Homo sapiens: one gene and its partner. The protein of the gene in region 2 interacts with the protein of the main gene of each other region in a biochemical or structural test. Each region holds a gene or a part of one and is shown on either strand. Other genes may lie near its edges.

Region 1 (4,544 bases), on a different chromosome or scaffold from region 2:
CAGAAGGGCGAGCTATGTACAGAATTAAGAACAAGGTCATGGGTACAGGGCATACTGCTTGGGTGATGACTACACCAAAATCTCACAAATCACCATTAAAGAACTTATGTAATCAAACACCACCTGTTCCACAAAAACCTATGAAAAAAAAGAGCAAGGTCAATTACTTGGTGGCCTTGGCGTTTCGCAGCCAAAGTGGGCTCATGCAGGAACTGTCTCAACTCAGTGTTTCTGTTCTGGCTTTATTTTAAAATTTATTTATTGGGTTCTCATCACCAGCACCTCTTAAAGACTTCCTGCTGCCTGCTGTAGCTTTAATATCTGAAAACTTTCCTGAAGTTTTGGTTTTGTCTAAAACCATGAGCATATGTGGCCTGCATTGATATTTTTGATCTTTTCAAATTTCCATGGGTGAGATGTAGCACCACTTCCAAGTGGGATTTGAGTGTTTCCTGGTCACTTTCATGACCCAACAAGAGAAAGAGAAAATTTATTTTAACGTCTTTTTTTTTTTTTGAGACAGGGTCTCACTCTGCCACGTAGGCTGGAGTGCAGTGGCATGATCGTAGCTCACTGCAGACTCAACCTCCCTGGGCTCAGGTGATCCTCCTACATCAGCCTCTTGAGTAGCTGGGACTACAGGCATGCGCCAGTACACTATTATTATTATTATTTGTATTCTTTGTAGAGATAGGGTTTCACCTTGTTGCCCAGGCTGTTCTCAAACTCCTGAGCCCAAGCAATTTGCCCGCCTTGCTTCCCAAAGTGCTGAGATTATAGGCATGGGCCACCATGCCTGGCTGAAAGTGTTCATTTTTATGTATCCATTCATTCAGTAAATATTTAGAGGGTTACCAACTGGGTGTCAGGCATTGGGCTAGGTGCTGGGCCTATGACACACAGAATTTGTCCTTCAGGAGTTACTTATTGTGTGTGTGCACAAGTGCATGTGTGTGTATGCATGTGTTGGGGGCCTAGGGATGAGGGCAGTGAACCAAAATTACAGAGAAGTTCAGAAAAACTACTTTCTTGGAGTAGTTGCGGACCCAGAGCAGGACAGTTCATAGACTGGGGCACTGGTAGGGTGGGATTGGCTTCCTGGAGGAAGTGTCAGTGGCTGCTAAGAACTCTTGGCAGGGCAGAGTGGGGTGGGGTGAAGCTTCTTGTAGTGGAGAAACTGAAAGCAGTTGTGGAAGCTTGGAGGTGGGCCAACTGAGCCAGACCTTTGTTGCCTAGGGCCACCGGCTGGGGTGCGTGGCCAAGAGGGCACTGAGGAGTGCAGGAATCTTAACCTGGAGAGTGACATTATCTCAGATTTGCTTTTTTTAAAAAAAAAAAAAATTTAACTGGACTTGATTGGGTACGAGGGAGTGTAAGAGAGCAAAATCTGTGGTTCTCTCTCAGCTTGTTTCTGCACTTAATATGAGCAAGCCCAAAAGGACAGATTGCTCTACCTTTGCCACAGGCCCCTTGGCAAGTTAGATTAGAGAGATTAGAGAATGAGGAGGGATCTAGAAAGAGATAAGGTAGTTCACTGGGGGGCTTTTGAAAGAAAAACAGGTCCCAGGCCTGATATAAATCTGGCCTTTAAACTTCACAAACGAAACCAAAAAAGAAGGGAGCTAAGTCAGCCAGGGTGACGTGCCACACCCCAGAGAATAGAAAAAGAAAAAAAAAAAAGAAAAAAGAAAAGAAACAAACAAACTTGTTTCGCAGGATCCAGATCTTTGAACTGTGTCCTGGTAAAGGTTGCTTCAGAGTCATTTTGGTTCTGTGTTCATTAAAAATGTAGATCTAGGCCAGGCGCAGTGGCTCAGACCTGTAATCCCAGCACTTTGGGAGGCCGAGGCGGGAGGATCACTTGAGTCCAGGAATTTGAGGCCATCCTGGGCAATATAGTGAGACTTCGTCTCTACAAAAAATAAAAAATTAACCAGGCGTGGTGGCAGAGGTTGCAGTGAGCTGTGATTGCACCGCTGTACTCCAGCCTGGGTGACAGAGCAAGATTCTCCCTAAAAAAAAAAATAAATAAATAAATAAAATAAAGTAGATCTGACCATGTTATACCCACACTTCAGGCCCTTTAATTTCTCTTTATTGTGGTCCACAAGGCCCTGCATGGCCTGGCTACTGCTATCTGTGGCTCCTTATCGAGGGTTCAGGCACATGGTTTCCTTTCACCTAGTCGGGGGTGAGGTGGGGTGAGGGGCTTTGCACATGCTGTTCACTGGGACTGGAAGCTCTTCTTTCCACATTTTAAAATTAACTCCCAACCCTTCCTATAGAACTCAGATTCCTTGCCTTTCCTTTACCCCCCTGAGCAGCCTTCCCATTAGAAATTATCCAAATTCATCTGTACTCTTCCTGGTGCTTATATTATGATTTTTATGATTTGTATGATTATTTGATGTGCATTTAGAATCTTTGAATAGATTCTTAGCCATGCGGTTATTGACTAAGCGAATGAACCAGAGAAGAGAAAATGGAAGAAATGATTAGCTGTGATGTTAGCAGTTGTGGAATTTTAACTTAATCACTTCTTGACAACTAAGTAGAGATTTGTCATATAGGACAGTTCTAGGTGTCCCACAGATATTGATAGGATTGGGTTATTTATTTATTTATTTTTTTGAGACAGGGTCTCGCTCTGTCACCCTGGCAGGAGTACAGTGGCGTGATCTTGGCTCACTGCAACCTGTACCTCCCAGGCTCAAGTGATCCTTCCACCTTAGCCTCCTGAGTAGCTGAGACCACAGGCATGCACCACCATACTTGGCTAATTTTTGTATTTTTTTTGGTAGAGATGGGGTTTCGCCATGTTTGCCAGGCTGGTTTCCAACTCCTGGGCTCAAGCAATCTGCCTGCCTCCACCTCCCAAAGCGCTGGGATTACAGGTGTGAGCCACTGCACCTGGCCTATTTATTTATTTATTTATTTATTTATTTATTTATTTATTTATTTATTTTAGAGACAGGGTCTTGCTCTGTTGCCCAGGATGGGGTACACTGGCACGATCATAGCTCACTGCAGCCTTGAACTCCTTGACTCAGGTGATCCTCCCACCTCAGCCTCTTGGGTAGCTGGGACTATAGGCCTGCACCACCATGCCTGCTTGGGATTGGGTTTTTAATGTTATAAAAGAAACCCCAAGTGAATGTATGAGTAGGCCAAATCCAAATCTTCTTGAATTAAAGTATATCATCTACTAACTTCAAAAGAGAAACAAAACCCATTGACTAACCCTTCCTAAAGGAGCAGGCCATTTATATTAATACGTAAGAGGAGGCAATAGGGTATAGTGGCTAAGAACATGGGCTTCAGAGTTCAGGCTAATCTGAATTCAAATTTTGGGATATCCAGCTCTGCAACCTTGGATAAGGATTTCATTTAAGCCTTTATTTCCCTGTCTGTAAAGGAATGATGTTACCCGCCTCATGGCATAACAGTGAGGATTTAAAATGGGCTGTATTAGACATCCAGCATGGTGTCTTGCCCATGGCAAGCCCTCAGAAGGTAGGGGAGACGCTGTTAACTTGAAAGTCAAGTAAGAGCAACAGACTCAGTCCTGAATCCACCCCAGCTCTGCCACTTGTGTGATCTTAGGCACAGGTCACTTAGTTTTTCTCTGAGCCTCAATGACTGCATGTATAAAGTGGTGATCATGACTTCAACCTTAAAGTTAAAAGAAAAAAGTGTCCCCAGAATTCCTAGAACATAAAGATGCTAGGTTAATGCTGGCTAAATAAACGGAATTGCCTGGTGCTTTACTCGTATATCAGAGTCAGTGGCCACAAAGCATTTATGGAGAACCCAGTTGCTTGGGTTCTCGGCAAGGTGCCACATTTAAGGAGTTTCATGGGTACAGGACTATAAAATTAGTCTTAATTGAAAAAATAGGCCCAGGGCATGGTGGCTTGTGCCTGTAATCCCAGCAGTTTGGGTGGCCAAGGCAGACGGATCACTTGAGCTCACGAGTTCGAGACCAGCCTGGGCAACATGGTGAAACCCTGTCTCTACAAAAATTACGAAAATTAGCCGGGCATGATGGTGCGTGCCTGTAGTCCCTAGCTACTCAGGAGGTTGAGGTGGGAGGATGGCTTGAGCCTGGGAGGCAGAAGTTACAGTGAGCTGAGATCATGCCACTGCACTAGACCTTGTCTCAAAATAATAATAATAATGATTTATAATCTAGAAGTAGCACTGGTTGTAGAATATACAGAGAGCAGAGGTAGATGTGCCACCACAAAACAAAAAGCATCCTCTGTTGGCTAAGGGCTGGTGGGTGGGGCACTAGAACAAGCCTTATAGTTGGAGAGCGCCCCCAACACCTTTGTATTTGTCAGTCACTCCCCCAGAGAGCAAATTGTCTTTTTCATTTGTCAGCATTTAGAGCAGTGGCTCTCACCCAGGAGCTATTTAACCTCCCAAGGGACATTTGACAATGTCTGGAGACATTTTCAATCTTTGCAGTTGGGAGGAGGGAATGCAACTGGCAACTAGTGAGTGGAGGCCAGTAATGTTGCTATACATCCCACAATGCACAG
Region 2 (5,590 bases):
GATTTAACTCTAGGCTCACTGGTGGTCATGGAAAGCACTGAAATTCCACCTACACCTGCAGAAAATAAACTTAGAAACTCGGATATTGCAGAGCAGTTAGGCTGACTGGCACTGCATTCATTTCCCTTCTCTTGCTTATTTCATTAGCCAAAAAAAGAAACAGAAATTATCATTAAGAACTGTCAAGGAGTGAATCAGAAAATTGTAACTTGAAGTTAAAATAAGAAACTGGCTCACTTGTGAAGCCTTAAAAGGAAGTTAATAATACTTGTAACTGAAAGCTTTGTAAGGAATCAAGCCATTTGTTTTTACGAGTCGACCTGATTCCAGTTGGAAGTTGCTGGGGAACATGTATATATCAAACACGCATGCTTCTCAGGAATTTGCAAGGTTTTGGTGCAATTCTTAGGAGCCACTGACCAATGGTAAAGAGAAAGTGATTCAAGAAGCTTCTGGAAAGGAGTTAACAGATAAGGAGAACATGCTGATGAACTCCCAGATAAAGAAAAACAGGGTGTAAGTGGTGGAAACACTGAGAAAGAGAGACAGGGCTCCTGCACAGTGGGTTCAGGAAAAAGTGCCAAAGGGCTGGCCCCAGGAGCAGAGTGAGGCTGAGGAAAGGAAGCAGGGTGCAGGCCAGTTGGCCGTAAAGCATTCCCAGAGTGAAGTGGGGTGCCTGGCTGGAGGGGGTGTTTTGGGGAAAGGATCTGTTCCCAGAGCAAATTTGCCATTTATAACTGAGGGACTGTCATTTGTTGGCCAGAGCCCTCTAAGAAATCCTCCTCAGAAACATACGGCTTTAGAGATTTTCCTGGGACTGGCCAGCTGGTACTGTCCTCAAAACTCAGTCAGGGGTCAGTGGGAAAAGACCCCGAGCTTCCCTCTTGGAGTTCCGGGCCGGCTGTTCTCAGTCTCAAATATCTGACTTCAAGTAGAGAAACTAAAATGAATTTGGCTAAAGCATTTCAAGTTAGGTCACCTAAAACCAGGCACACTGCTTATTCAGCAGGCACCTTCCCTAAGAAATAACCAGTTTGCACAAAAAGCGAATTATACAATCTATAATTCTGGCACTGATCAGAAGAGTGAGATTCAGTTATCAAGAACTCAGAAGTCACCAGTAGTGGAGAAAATAAAACTTGGTTTGTTCATATTTTTTTGTTCCCTTTCAGCTCTGCACAATGTCCATCTGTTTAATGGCCCACCCTGCAATAAGAATTCTTTCATCTGTATTTACAAAACTGTTTACACAGATGCACATACCATTGCACTCTGACAAAGTCTCAAGGCTACAGGGTGAGAAGAAAAAGATAATAGGAAGCATTTAATAACTACCCCACAAGAGGACTTAGTGATGGAACCAAGGGTGGAAAAGACAAGGCTTTGTATCACATTGTAAAGAACGCTTTCATCTTACGCCCTTTATAGCAAAATGAGTTTCTGAATTTGAGATTGAGTCCCATGAAAAAACCTATAAAAAGCACATTTGAGTGCTCCCTTATTTTCAGAAAGTTGCCAGTGGCACATCTTCTGCTTTCCTCTGCTGATCTAGAAGATTCCTTTGGCTGAGTTATTTTTACAACGGTGTCTCAGGGCCAGTTTGCACTGACTTATTGTCAAACTTGCAGGAATTTTTTGAGCCAGTTCTTAAACACAGCCACTATTAACAGTTAAATTATATAACTTCACAATCAAAAAATATGTTAAAAACAGAAGATAAAAATGCAAAACTCATCACTTTCTAATTATCTTACTACATTTCATTACCAATTATACACCTGAGGTTACTTATGTCTCTGGTATCCGTATGCTAGAAATACTACATTACGCTGTGCTATTGCATCTTTGCAACTCGGCATTCAGGGTTCTCACAGTGATGGCTCGTAGTGGGCCATGAAAGCAATATGTACATCACAGACCCAGCAAAAGCTACTGATGAGGGCGTTTTGTTTTTCTCTCATGCAGGCTGTTGCTAAACATTTACCAGCACGCCACTGCATACAGAAGCACAGGGCAGAAGAGATAAAGAAGGAGAGATGCTGTATATAAGCAACCTGATTTTAAGCTGTATATTAAGGTAGTACATCTCAGAACCTCTACAGGTTTTATTTAGTATTTTACTTAAATATGAATTTCTTAATCTCAAGGAGTCATGAATTACCTAACGCAGTATTCTCCTTAGATCTATGCTATGCTTCTTGCCTTGCTCCTTTCTAAGTAATACTAATTGAGTCTCTATCTCTTTAATTGTATATTCGCAGTGTCCAGAGTCATGCGTCTACTGATATTAAATATTAATCACCTGGAAAAGATGGTCAACAGTTTTAATCAAATAAGTTATATTCTGCAAAACTATGTACAGCTGAACCATTCAATATAAGGTAGAAAACCTAATTCCATAAGCTACCTACTAAAATTAGTCTCCTAACTTTACAGAACAAGTACACACATATGCTCATAAAAATGGGATGATCTGATTTAAAGTTTAAGTGAAGCAATTTAATTCAAGCAAAGCGAAAGGGAAATGCTCAAATGTCAGTAGATAGATTAATTTTCCATTTTAGCAACCAATTTAAATGTTTATAAAAGGAATGTTTATAAATGACTTTCTCCACAAATTATAAGTATAGATAGAGTGAGCTCTTTCTAAAAATATTTTGCACAGATGTGCAAAATTAATAGGCTCACCTTAAATCTACTCTAGGCCTTCAGAATTGTTAATAGAAATTTTTTCCAAGAACGCAAAAAACAGTTTCTAGAAAACTGGTATCTGCAGGTTACCTGTGGTCCATGGGGTAGCTGCTATCTGGTATGGACTGCGATGGAGGGAGGTGAGCTGGGAAGGCCCGGTCAGGTTTCGGTGTATGAGTTGAGTTTGGAGATGCATGATGCAGTGGGGACACTGGCGTGCTGGATGGTGTGGGGGGGTTGGAGGGCCTCATTCCCACTTGTGGCTTCTGATCATAGGCACTACCCAGGGGACAAAAGAAGAGAGAACATTTCTTTCTTTGGAGCAATTTTTTAAAAAAGTTTCTAATCCAAAGGAAGAAAAGATATTTTAGACTTAAGTCAAATGGAAATGAAAACTTTGTTGTTGCTATTGTTGTTTAAATCCAGAACAGATAAACTTCAAAATCACAACACCCTTAAACAGAAAATAGGATGATTAATGCAAAACCTTGTAACAGAACAAATATTAAATGTGTATTTTTAATGCATATACAAACAACTTAGTACAGGGAAAATTACGTCCAAAAAAGCAGTGGTATTTTTTCCATCTATTCTTGATATATCTATTTGAGAAAGTTTGATAGATCTTTCCTAAATCATTAAATACTTCTGATATTATATTCTTCTTTTATATTATGTAAGATTTTAAAACAAGAACTAACATCAGCTTAATAAGGCAGAGACCACACCTGGCTTGCTTTTATTTGTGGTGGGATTTTAAGAAGGCAATGCTTTTACTTTATTTTCATTTTATTATATTAAATAAATGATGCTTGGCATTAACTTCCCCACATGGGATAATGAAGATTAATGAGGTAAATTAAAATGTCTGATATATTTAAACTTTCTTAGAGAATAAGTAAAAAATAATGTCATTAGGAATAAAATCCTATTATAGTCTAACTTCTAAACACAGTTACAGAAGAATAAAATGAGTAAGCTTGATTTTACATTATGATTTTAAACTGCTTTCCTAGGTGTAACTTTCAGGAATGTGATTTAGCTAATTTTGGTCATCTATAAAATATTTTACTAAAACTAAATTTTCTTAAATTTTTTTTAACAACAGGGCATTTCTAAGTTAGAATGCTGTATTTCATTTTGCTGGGCGCAGTGGCTCATGCCCCTGATCCTAGCACTTTGGGAGGCTGAGGTGGGAGGATCGCTTAAGCACGGGAGTTTAAGACCAGCCTGAGCAACATGGTGAAACCCCGTCTCTACTAAAAATACAAAAAATTAGCTGGGCGTGGTGATGCATGTCTGTAGGCTCAGATATTCACGAGACTGAGGTGAGAGGATCGCTTGAACTCGGGAGGCAGAGGTTGCAGTGAGCCCAGATTGTGCCACTGCACTCCAGCCTGGCTGACAGAGTGAGACCCTGTCTCAAAAAAAAATAAGTAAAATAAAATAAAAAGCAATCATCAGTACACTTTTTTCTTTAGAAAGAAATATTTCTTTTTGAATTAAATTATGTAATAATTTATTCTGTTGCTCCATCAATGCAACGGAATTATATCCAGCTGCAAAAATCTTTTACAAGGAGTAAAGGAATATATGCTGCACAAGGCAGCTCTTGCTTCAAAGCAAAGTCAACAGTGTTCATATAATGAATTGCATGTTTGGTTCCACCTATGTTCTTTACCAGTATTTCTGAAGAAAAACCCACTTCTTTTGTGAAATGGTTCACCTAACTCATTCTCATGAATGAAGAAACAAATGATACTATTCCCCCATGAAATGCTGTACTCAATAATATTTTCTGTATAGCGATGGAAGTACCAGAATTTATTGCATATGCCATATATCACTGTGGGGACTTTTCATCCCCCAAAAGAAACACAAAATATTCAGGCAATTCCTTTATTATTGATTTGTGGATGTCAGATATGGCATATAAAACAGTGATGATTTCACAGTCACAATTCTGATTAATGCTGAAAGGCAATGACAATTCTATATCTAACTGCCATTGACTAGAAATTCCTCAATATGTTAAATAATTATGCTGTGGATACACAGTACTTGTAAGGAGAAAATGCAAAAACAAAACTAAACTATAAAATAAAACTCAGATCGATCAATACTGTCTTATCTGAACTCATTATGCTTTAATAGTTACCTTCTACAAGAGACCTTTTTTATAAAACTTTGCAGTTTCAATTGAGCTAGCTCATAATTTCAGGCTCTGGTGAACCTCTTAGAAAAGCAAATATAAAAGACAAGTTTGCAAGAACAAATGGTAATAAAATATCTGAGCATTGGTCAGCTGCCATAATGGCACAAGTCTATGTTTCTCTTTTATTTTTGAGATGGAGTCTCGCTCTTGTTGCCCAGGCTGGAGTGCAATGGCGCGATCTCGGCTCACAGCAACCTCCACCTCCCAGGTTCAAGCGATTCTCCTGCCTCAGCCTCTGTAGTAGCTGGGATTACAGGCATGCGCCACCATGCCCAGCTAATTTTGTATTTTCAGTAGAGACGAGGTTTCTCCGTGTTGGTCAGGCTGGTCTTGAACTCCCGACCTCAGGTGATCCGCCCAACTCTGCCTCCCAAAGTGCTGGGATTATAGGCATGAGCCACTGCGTCTGGCCTATGTTTCTAGAATCTTACATATCTTGGACATAAACAGCGTATGCAATAAATATCTGAGGAATTATTTAATAGAAGACCCCTTTGGGTCATAATGTACAATGAATCTGAATTGATATAACTTATAAAACAGTATGAATATTTGGAATAATTTGTGTAAGTTTGCAAACTAACTTCTTTTAAGAACTAAGTTTCTACTGTAATTGAGAGTGATAATACTCAGTAGAGACAGCCAACTTTTTCTTTATGCAATTAAAGGCCAATATGAAAAGTA

Evidence for each region. Proteins that work in one complex are often made in the same cells at the same time.
Region 1: the proteins of ETV1 (region 2) and KAT2B form a complex in vitro, tested with the Homo sapiens proteins (one study listed by BioGRID).

What each region holds. Positions count from the first base shown.
Region 1 is NC_000003.12:20,042,402-20,046,945, forward strand, and holds part of KAT2B (histone acetyltransferase KAT2B), read left to right. Parts: intron 1-4,544. UniProt on the Homo sapiens protein: Functions as a histone acetyltransferase (HAT) to promote transcriptional activation. Has significant histone acetyltransferase activity with core histones (H3 and H4), and also with nucleosome core particles.
Region 2 is NC_000007.14:13,932,927-13,938,516, forward strand, and holds part of ETV1 (ETS translocation variant 1), read right to left. Parts: intron 2,971-5,590; coding exon 2,782-2,970; intron 1-2,781. UniProt on the Homo sapiens protein: Transcriptional activator that binds to DNA sequences containing the consensus pentanucleotide 5'-CGGA[AT]-3'. Required for olfactory dopaminergic neuron differentiation; may directly activate expression of tyrosine hydroxylase (TH).